Linked DNA regions of Homo sapiens. The protein of the gene in region 3 interacts with the protein of the main gene of each other region in a pairwise test. Each region holds a gene or a part of one and is shown on either strand. Other genes may lie near its edges.

Region 1 (3,755 bases), on a different chromosome or scaffold from region 3:
CCGCTGCACACCAGCCTGGGTGACAGAGGGAGACTCCATCTCAAAAAAAAAAAAAAAAAGTATGGGATTCTATGACAAAAACACACCATAAGGATCGATGGGAAATTTTTTAATTTTATGAAATATGACAGTGAAAAAAATTTAATATAATTTTATGACTTTATGCATAATGAAATAAACTAAATATTAGAAGTAGAAAAATATATAGACAAGCCTAATCTGAAAAAGAGATAAATATCTTTATTTTCTGACTTCCACAGTAATTACTTAGAAGAAATCCTTCTAAGAGAAAGTCATGAATATTTATTAAGTGTTGAAATGGGATATCACCCACTATGAACATATTATTCCCTGAAATTACAAGTCTATGTAAAATACTCTTTGCAGTTTTTATTTGCCCATTTTACCCACAGCAAGCATCTTTTATGCATATTAACAATTTTCTATTGTTTATTCTATAGGTTTCTTCTATCTTATACTATGTTCTAAAGTCTCAGATAATGTGACATAAACACGTAGATGATATTAATATACGCATGCATGTTTGATTATTGACTAACATTTTTGGCTTAGTAAGCTTTTAAAATGAGCCATAATGTTTTCATGTCATCATTATTAAATATAAAATCTATATGTAAAAAATAAAGCATGTATAATAATAATAGTCAAATACCACATCTGATTTCTTTTTCTTTCTAAATTAAGTGAAAGTGACCATTCTTACTATGCAAACTAAAGGGGATACAAAAATTTTAATTTATGCATTATATTATGTACAGGAAAATTCTATAAAAAGTACATTAGAACTTTTAACAATTAATATTTTGGAGGTTATAAATTCAGTCATAGCCTGTGGAATCTAGTTCTATTTCTAACCCTTAGCTTTATCTGCCATGGCTATAGTTTCTTTTTAATTCTAAAACTAAGGTTAACAAATATGATTGTGGCTGGGAGCGGTGGCTCACTCCTGTAATCCCAGCACTTTGGGAGGCGGAGGTAAGCGGATCACCCAAGGTCAGGAGTAGGAGACCAGCCTGGGCAACATAGTGAAACCCCATCTCTACTAAAAATACAAAAAAATTAGCCAGGCGTGGTGGTGGGCGCCTGTAATCCGAGCTACTTGAGAGGCTGAAGCAGGAGAATTGCTTGAACCCAGGAGGTGGAGGTTGCAGTGAGCTGAGATCGTGCCACTGCACTCCAGCCTGGGAGACAGAGCAAGACTCTATCTCAAAAAAAAAAAAAAATATGTGTGTGTGTGTGTGTGTGTGTGTGTGTGTGTGTGAGATTAAATAAACTTAAAAGGTCTTATACAAACCTAGGTGAAAATATTTTTCTAAGGCAAGCTGAACTGAGTATTTTTTAATTCTATGCAACAAAACCACAAAAACCTGTTATAGACATCTTTAGACTATCAGAGTTTAAGTTTAAAACACTAATGACAGTTTTTAAAATAAATTTTATATAAAGCAAGATCAAACCAAATTGTGTGAAAATTTTCTTACCTCAGCTGTTAACTTCTTTTGCAGAATGCTAAATTCTTGTTCTAACTGGACATTTTGGTGATTTGGCTAAGAAAGGAAAATGGGTGGTTCAATTCAGATTTAAAATGTTCCTCTAGCAAACTGAAATAGTTTCTGTAGAAAAAGAGGAAGTTTATCAATAGCTGGTTCCGGAAGTGCAATAAACCACAAAGTGACTAAGAAATATATTACTTTAACAGAACTTATTTTGAAATACATTTTGGAGCCCTATGATTTGAGTGCTTTTAATTATGTAAATAAATATTTGAGATACTCTAGTAATATGATTATGTAAATTAAATATTTAGGATGGAGTCCCGAAGAGAAAATTACATGTTCTAAGAAGAAAAGCTGCCAGTTGGGTTATCACTTACAGTGAGATTTCTTCTCATAAGAAGTGAGTGATGTGTTCTGTTTACTTGTATGACCTTAGGCAAGACTCTGCACTTCTGAGTCACCGTTTCCTCCTCTAAAGGAATATTTTATTGGGTTATTGTGAGGATTAAATAAGATAGCATAATATAACATGTATAAATGCCTCACCAACTGCAGGTAACCAATAAATGTAATGTTATTTCCTCATAATATAAAAAGTCCAGGGTAAAAGTATAATTACATTATTTTGCAAATGACAGGATCTCATTCTTTTTTATGGCTGAATAATACTCCATTGTGTATATGTACCATATTTTCTTTATCCATTCATCTGTTTATAGACACTTAGGTTGCTTCCAAATCTTGGCTGTTGTGAATAGTGTTACAACAAAAGTGGGAGTGCAGATGTCTCTTTGTACAGTTTTCCTTTCTGTTGGGTATATACCTAGCAGTGGGATTGCTGGATCATATGATAGCTCTATTTTTAGTTTTTTGAGGAACCACCAAACTGTTCTCCATAGTGGTTTTACTGATTTACATTCCCACTAACAGCGTACGAGAGTTCCATTTTCTCCACACCCTTCCCAGCACTTGTTATTGCCTGTCTTTTGAGTATAAGCCATTTTAACTGGGGTGAGATGAGGTATCATTGTAGTTTTGATTTGCATTTCTCTCATCAGTGGTGCTGAGTACCCTTTCGTATGCCTGTTTGCCATTTGTATATTTGTAATTAAATTATTTTGACCAAATATTTTACTAGTGACTTTTGAGTTCAAGTTCTCAACTATTTATTTGATTACCCACAAAGTAGTTACTTCTCAGTGGAAAATAAAATAAATTGGGGATCATTTTTTAAATAAGAAGTTAACTAAAGTTAACTTGTTACTAAAGGGTAATGAGGGGTTGGGGAGATGGTGTTACCAGTTAATAGGTACAAAAAACAATAGAAAGAATGAATAAGACCTATTTGATAGCACAACAGAGTGACTGTCATTAATACCATAATTATACATTTTAAAATAACTAAAAGTGTAATTGGATCCTTTGTAACACAAAGGATAAGTGCTTGAAGGGATGGATACCCCATTCTCCATGATGTGATTATTTCACGTTGCGTGACTGTATCAAAACATCTCATTACCCTTTAAATATATACACCTACTATGTACCCACAAAAATTTAAAATACAAAAAATTTTTAAGTTAACTAAACAAAGTGTATTGAAAGGAGTGAGTCCATCTGAATAAAAATTTCTTTGAGTAAGTCACCTTTCCTCTCTTGAAAAATGGAGATCATAATTCCTAATTTATAAGCTTATTGTGGAATTAAATAAATGTAAAGTGCCTTGGATGATGCATATTATAGTAGGTACGGAATGTGTTAACCCATGCACTGCTTTTTCCTGGTCACTGCGGGAAACACAGGTTATTATGACCTTGTTCTTAACTTCAGGGTACTTATAGCTTGGTGCAAAAAGAATAGTTTTTTTTTATGGGCTCCTACTATAAAGCATAATATAATCAAATGCTATAAAGCTTTTGATTCACTGGTTTTTGGAAGTATTGTTGTTTTTACGGACAGGGTATTGCTGTGTTGCGCAGGCTGGTCTTGAACTCCTGACCTCAAGCAATCCTCCTGCCTCAGCCTCTCGAGTAGCTAGGACTACAGGCACATGCTACTATGCTCGCTGGCTGGCTTATTTATTTATTGTAAAGATGAGGCTCTTACTTTGTTGTGCAGGCTGGCCTCAAACTCCTGGCCTCAGGTGATCCTCCCAGGATTATAGGTGTAAGCCACTGTGCCTAACCTGATTCACTATTTTTAAATCCCTGAATTAAGCTGGTGAACTGTAATACCCAG
Region 2 (3,755 bases), on a different chromosome or scaffold from region 3:
TGGGGGGATTATGGGAGCTACAATTCAAGATGAGATTTGGGTGGGGACACAGCCGAACCCTATCAGTGGTCCTCCTCCCCAAAAACCCATTACCCTGATCTTACTCATGTCAAAAACAGGCAAATCCTAATTAAAGGTCCTTCTGCAAAATATCTGACCAGTCAGTACTATCTTCAAAACCCTCAAGTTCATCTAAAACAAGGGAAGTCTGAGAAACGATCACAGAGATGATGAGCCTAAAGAGATATGATGACTAAATGTAATAGGGTGCCCTGGATAATACCAGGACAGAAAAAGGACATTAGGGAAAAACTAAGGAAATGTGAATAAAGTACAGATTAGAGTTAATAATAATGTATCAATATTGGTTCAGTAATTGTGACATTTCAGATATTAGTAATAGGGGAAACGTGGGCTATATGGGCACTCACTGAAGTATCTTTGCGATAACTTTGTAAATCTAAAATTATTCTAAAACAAAAAGGTTATTGGGGAAAAAAAGAATGGGTCAACATTTCAAAACAAATAAATAAAAAACCACTGAGACAAGTATAGCTCTCAAGACTTAGCAAATACTAAATCTTCTCTTAAGACTGAAAAACTCAGATTTCACGACTGCCACAGGCCTTCATCTCCCAATGTTGTGTACTGTGCTGGTAGGCCATTCTTGGCTTCTAATGAAGTAACTTTAAATTCTATTGTGAAAATTCAGCTGAAAACAGACTGGGGAATAGAAACCAGTGTCAGAAGTTACTGTTTTAGGCCAGGCACAGTGGCTCTTGCCAGTAATCCCAAACACTTTGGGAGGTCCAGGAGGAAGGATATCTTGCCTCCAGGAGTTCAAGACCAGGCAGGAAAACATAGTGAGACTCCATCTCTATTTCAACTTTTTTTTAATTAAAAAGAAAAAAAAGCCGGGTGTGGTGGCTCCCGCCTATAATCCCAACACTCTGGGAGGCCGAGGCGGGTGGATCACCTGAGGTCGGGAGTTTGAGACCAGCCTGGCCAACATGGTGAAACCCTGTCTTTACTAAAGATACAAAAATTAGCCGGGCGTGGTGGCACACGTCTGTAATCCCAGCTATTCGGAAAGCTGAGGCAGGAGAATCGCTTGAACCCAAGAAGCGGAGGTTGCAGTGAGCCAAGATCCCGCCACTGCCCTTCAGCGTGGACGAGAGAGAGACTCCGTCTCTAAATAAATAAATAGAATGGCTTTAAAAAAAAAAAAAGGAAAGAAAAAGAAGTTACCGCTTTATGGCAATGGGTTGTACAGCCTGGCCCGTCCCATTAAAACAAATTCCTAAGAACCACGCAAAACTAGATTAGAATGCAAAGCTAAGCCACCTCTCTGGGCAAAGTCACACTGGTAGCCGGTGGGCTGAAACTGGTGTGCAGATGCCCTGCAAAATATAATTATTAATCTAAATGTGTTGTCACCATTTTAAAAATGTTTCTCATATTCATTTCTCGCTTCTCTTAGAATTCGTACAACAAACATGGACTGTGCACCTACTAAGGGCTTTACATTCACCACCTCGGTTTACCCCGCAGTACAAGCGTGTATGTCCATTTTAGAAGACGAAACTGAGGGCCAGAGAGGAACCGTGACTTGCCCACGGTAAGAGAGCCATACGGATTCGAACCCTGGCCAGATTCACTCTGGAGCTCAGGGTTCTCCTACTGCTCCACCCGTGGGAGGAAAGGCCCGGACCAGGCCATGAGGAGCCCTGGGTTCTGGCCCAGCCTCCGCACGAAAGCGCAGGGCTGCCCCAGGCGAGGCCCTCCGCCTCCCGGGGGGCTCAAATTCCCCTCCGGAAGTAACTTTCGAACAACCGCCGAGGGAACGTATTCAGGCCCTGAGCGGAGCGACAGCCGGGCCCACCAAGCGGCGCCGCTGGAGACAGGCCGGCCGGGAAAGCCAGGCCACCGCACCGAGGACGGCTCTCTCTCGGTTCCCACCCCACCGCAAAGCTGCGGCACTCACCTCCCGCGCCGCCGCGCCGCTCCCCCGGAAGTAGTTCCCTGCGACCCTGAGTCCCGGAAGTGACGCGCACTGAGCAACCAACCGGCTCTGTTCCGCCCGCGTTGCCAGGTTTCTGGGTGAGGCACCGCTGGGTTTTGTCGACTTTTGTCCCTGTTCTGTGGGTTCGAGCTGGACAAAGAGGTTTGGGGAAATGAAATCTAGAGCTTGTCAATTCTTTAAGCTCCTATATCACTCAGCTCGTTTCAGCAACATTTTTGTTTAATTAAAAAGAAAACAAAAGAAATTACTTCTCGGGGCTGGGCACGGTGGCTCACGCCTGTAATCCCAGCACTTTGGGAGGCCGAGGCGGACGGATCACTTGAGGTCAGGAGTTCGAGACCAGCCTGGTCAACATGGTGAAACCCCGTCTCTACCAAAAATACAAAAATTAGCCGGGCGTGGTGGCGGGCGCCTGTAATCCCAGCTGCTTGGGAGGCTGAGGCAAGAGAATCTCTTGAATCCCGGGAGGCAGAAGTTGCAGTGAGCCGAGATCGCGCCACTGCACTCCAGCCTGGGCGACAGAATGAGACTCTTCCTCAAAAAAAAAAAAAAAAAAAAAAAAAAGTTACTTATTCATCGCAATGGGCTGTATAGCTTGGCCCGTCTCATTGTAACAAATTCGTAAGAACTGCGCGAAACTAGATTAGAATTTTGTCCTATGCAAAGCTAAGCCATCTCCCAGAGCAGAGCACAGTCACAACTGGTAGCTGGTGAGCTAAAACGGGTGTGTAGCTGTCCTGCAAAATGTTCATCTGGATGTGTTGTCACTATTTCAAAAGTGTTTCTCACGTTCATTTCCTTAATTTTATGCCAGGTCCTGAGCTAGGAGCCTACAATGCAGAGAGGAGACAAACAGAAACACCTCTTGTAATTCAGACAGAAGCAAATCATTATAATTCATTCAAAAAGCATTCACTGAGCGCGTACTCTATGCTTTGTCCTTGTAACTGAGGACACAGTGCTAAAGCAGACACATACAGTCTCTGCCCTTGTGGTGCTTACAGTCCGTTGGAGGGAGACAGACTAATTAAATGAATGTGTAATCATATAACAGGATAAGTTTTTTGAAGGCAAAGAACAGTGTTCCATGATTAAGAAGGGGTGGGGGGCAAGTAGTAGGAGAAAAAGAAACCTAGATGAGAGTGTGATAACCAGCCTCCACCATAAACCCTGACGATTCTTGGCTCCTGATATCCATACCCCTCTGTAGTCACCTCCCACCAAGAATAAGACTGACCTGTATAACCCATAGGATATTGCGGAAATCTTGGAGCACGAGTTCCAAGATAAAGTCATAAAAGACATTGCAACTTCCTCTTTCCTCTGTCTTGATTGCTCATGGGGAATCCATGTTGTGAAGACACTCAAGCAGTCCTATGGAGAGGCTCGCATGGGGAGTAACTGAGCTGCCTGCCAACAACCAGCTCCAACTTGCCAGCCATGTGTATGAGCCAAGTGGCTCCAGCAGTCCTAGTCAAGCTTTCAAATGACTGTGGCCTGGCCAAAATCTTCAGTGTAAACTCAAGAGCAACCTTGAGCCAGAAATACCTTGCAATGCCACTTGAATGCCTGCCTCACAGAAATTGTGAAATACTAAATGTTATTGTTTTAAGCTCCTAAGTTTTAGGATAATTGGTTATGCAGCCTAGATAACATACATAGAGGATCAAGGAACAGAGGTTAGATACCAGAGACTCCAAAAAAAAAAAAGAGAGAGAGAGAGACCTATCTT
Region 3 (3,755 bases):
TCCTGCTAATTTTTATATTGTTTTTGTGGAGATGTAGTTTTGCCATGTTGCCCAGGCTGGTCTCAAACTCCTGAGCTCAAGTGATCCGCCCACCTTGACCTCCCAAAGTGCTGGGGTTACAGGCTTGAGCCACCGTGCCTGACACTATTCTTATGTTTTTGAGACAGAGTCTCACTCTGTACCCAGGTTGGAGTGCAGTGGCATGATATCGGCTCACTGCAACCCTGTGCCTCCAGGGTTCAAGTGGTTCTCATGCTTCAGCCTCCCGAGTAGCTGGGTTTACAGGTGTACTACATGGTGAGTTCTTGCAAGATCTGATGGTTTTTAAGGGGCCCTTCCCCTCTTCATTTAGCACTTCTCCTTCCCGCGGCCTTGTGAAGAAGGTGCCTTGCTTCCCCTTTGCTTTCCGCCACGATTGTAAGTTTCCTGAGGCCTCCCCAGCCATGCTGAACTGTGAGTCAACTAAACCTCTTTAATTGACCTTTATAAATTACCCCGGCTTCAGGGCCTTTTGTGGTTACATATGAATTTTAGGATCGTTCTATTAAGGTTTATTTGGCTTACAGTTCTGCAGGCTGTCCAAGAAGCACGAATCTGAGGATCTCAGGAAGCTTCCAATCATTGCAGAAGGGGAAGAGGAGTCAGTATTTCACAAGACGAGAGAGGGGAGGGGTGCCATGCTCTTTTAAACAACCAGTTCTCTTGTTAAATTATAGAGGGAGAACTCACTCATCAGCAAGGGGATAGCACCAATATGTGCATGACGGATCCACCCTCATGACCCAAACACCTCCCACCAGGCCCCGCCTCCAACACTGGGATCAAGTTTCAACACTAGATGTGGAGGGGACAAATATCCAAACCATAGCAAATGCCACTGGAATTATGATAGGGGTTGCATTAAATCTGTAGATCACTTTGGGTACTACGGATATTTTAACAATATTAATTCTTCCAATTCATGAACACAGAATACCTTACTTATATTTTCTCCAATTTTTTAAATCAATGTTTTATAGTTTTCAGCATATAGATCTTTTACCTCCTTGGTTAAATTTATGCCCAAGTATTTTATTTTATTTTATTTTCTGATGCTATTATTATTTTTTTAAAAATTATACTTTAAGTTCTAGGGTACATGTGCGCAACGTGTAGGTTTGTTACATATGTATACATGTGCCATGTTGGTGTGCTGCACCCATTAACTCCTCATTTACATTAGGTATATCTCCTAATGCTTTCCCTCCCCCTCTGATGCTATTATGAATGAAATTGTTTTCATAGTTTCTTTTTCAAATAGTTCATTGTTAGTGTATAAAAATGCAACTGATATTTGTATGCTGATTTTGTATCCTGCAACTTAACTGCATTTGTTTATTAGTTCTAATTTTTTTGTGTGTGGAATCCTTAGGTATTTCTATGCATAAGATCATCTCACCTGAAAACAGAGACAACTTTACTTCTTCCTTTCCAATGTGAATGCCTTCTATCTTTTTTGTCTGCCTGACTGTTCTGGCTAGGGCCCCCTATATTTTATTTAATGTAGAGTAAAGTGACAGAAAAAGCCACAGTTAATCATACCTCTATAAAGAATCTGATACATGGCATTCTTACAGAACTGATAAAAATGAGTGGGATAATCTACATTGAGCCATGGCTGACAATAGCAGTTTTGACAATACATCACATTTATATTTTCATCTTTGACCCAATAGTCTACCTTCCTAAACATACCAATTCTAACAGTCCAAAGAATTTTGAGATGTTTTCAAATTTTGGCTGCACAGTAAAGTGCTGCATTACCCAACAATCTTTGAAGTTCTTAAAACTTGTTTCTATAGACAGTTTTTTTTTACGTGAAAGCTGATAATCATCTAATTCCAGTGATTTTAGAGCTATAATTACAGAAGAGTAAGAGGTTCCTTTTTACATTAATTAGTATTTAATAATGCTTATTAAAGCATCAGAGCACTTAGTTAACATGATATACTGAGTTCTGAAAACAATGTATTATAATTATAAGGTCCACAGAAGAACGAAACCATAGGCTGTAGTAACATGTATACAAACGTCTTTCTTGAAGTACGAAGAAAAGTTGTTTTGGTCTACAATAAAGAAAGAGGGGGGTCAGGCGCGGTGGCTCATGCCTGTAATCCCAGCACTTTGGGCGGCCAAGGCAGGTGGATCACCTAAGGTCAGTTGTTCAAGACCAGCCTGGCCAACATGGTGAAACCCCGTCTCTGCTAAAATACAAAAATTAGCTATGCCTAGTGGCAGGTGCCTGTAATCCCAACTACTAGGGAGGCTGAGGCAGGAGAATCACTTCAACCCAGGAGGCGGTGGTTGCAGTGAGCCGAGATGGTGTCACTGCACTCCAGCCTGGGTGACAAGAGCAAAACTCTGTCTCAAAAAAAAAAAAAAGGGTAAGGGAAGAGGGTAAGAAAAGAGAGAGTAAAGCAGCAAAAACAAAATTACAATGATATGTCTAAACTCATCAGTATGAAGAAAGATGTAAAAAATCTGGAGACAGCTTAGCTGAAAGGTAATATCATGGTTAAGTTACTTCACAGATTTTTTTGAGTTACTCTTCCCAGCACTTTGGGAGGTTGAGGCAGGTGGATCACGAGGTCAGGAGTTCAAGACCAGCCTGGCCAAGATGGTGAAACCCATCTCTATTAAAAATACAAAAATTAGCTGGGCATGATGGCAGGCACCTATAATCCCAGTTACTTGGGAGGCTGAGGCAGAGAACTGCTTGAACCCGGGAGGTGGAGGGTGCAATGAGCTGAGATGGTGCCACTGCACTCCAGCCTGGGCGACAGAGTGAGACTCCGTCTCAAAAAAAAAAAAACAAACAAAAAAACTTCTTTAACAGAGGTATTAACATTTTACATTTTAAAAGGAATGTTGGAGACATCTGATGCTGGCCATGTTACAGTAAGAGCATTTTGACGTCAATCACCCACTGATTACAACAAAAACTGGACAAAACACACCAAAAAACAACTACTTCAGGACTACAAAAAGTAAACAACAGCAAGTGAAGGCAAGGCAGCAAAAACTTCTAGAAAAACCCTGTCTTTCCGGCCAAAGGACCAGGAAAAGAGGTTGCTAAGAGGTAGTGAAGTACAGGAAAGTCTCCCCTTTTTTTCTCTACCTCCTCTTTTTTCTTTCCTGGTCCTGCCTTTAAGGCAGCCCCAGTTGCAGAACTGCATGGTGGCAACAAAGGCAGTTAAAACCCCATCTTTCTGGCCAGAGCAAATAGAAAAAGGGATCCCAGGCCGGGCGCGGTGGCTCACGCTTGTAATCCCAGCACTTTGGGAGGCCGAGGCAGGTGGATCATGAGGTCAGAAGATCAAGACCATCCTGGCTAACATGGTGAAACCCCGTCTCTACTAAAAATACAAAAAATTAGCCGGGTGTGGTGGCAGGCACCTGTAGTCCCAGCTACTCGGGAGGCTGAGGCAGGAGAATGGCATGAACCCGGGAGGCGGAGCTAGCAAGGGATCCCAGTGGTCTGAAGTGTATGGGGGAAACCTGGTTATGCTGTTCTGCCTTTTCTGCTGTTACTTTCTTTTGATAGAAGCCCAAGTCACATGGAACTATGTGGTGGCAACACATGTAGTGTTGCATGCAGCCACAGCTCTATAGAGAAACCTTGTCTTTCTTGACAGAGGACCAGGAAAATGGGGTCTGTTTGCAAAACAATGTGGAAGGAACACTGGAGAGGAAAGAGCTGAGAGAGGGGTTCTTTA

What was found.
Region 1: the proteins of SLC39A9 (region 3) and EVI2B interact in binary tests that used the Homo sapiens proteins (3 or more experiments, as listed by UniProt).
Region 2: the proteins of SLC39A9 (region 3) and MANBAL interact in binary tests that used the Homo sapiens proteins (3 or more experiments, as listed by UniProt).

The regions. Positions count from the first base shown.
Region 1 is NC_000017.11:31,312,477-31,316,231, forward strand, and holds the start of EVI2B (protein EVI2B precursor), read right to left. Parts: upstream 1,579-3,755; 5' UTR 1,503-1,578; intron 1-1,502. UniProt on the Homo sapiens protein: Required for granulocyte differentiation and functionality of hematopoietic progenitor cells through the control of cell cycle progression and survival of hematopoietic progenitor cells.
Region 2 is NC_000020.11:37,287,916-37,291,670, reverse strand, and holds the start of MANBAL (protein MANBAL), read right to left. Parts: upstream 2,017-3,755; 5' UTR 1,985-2,016; intron 1,403-1,984; exon of another isoform or gene 1,345-1,402; intron 1-1,344.
Region 3 is NC_000014.9:69,436,691-69,440,445, reverse strand, and holds part of SLC39A9 (zinc transporter ZIP9), read right to left. Parts: intron 1-3,755. UniProt on the Homo sapiens protein: Transports zinc ions across cell and organelle membranes into the cytoplasm and regulates intracellular zinc homeostasis. Participates in the zinc ions efflux out of the secretory compartments.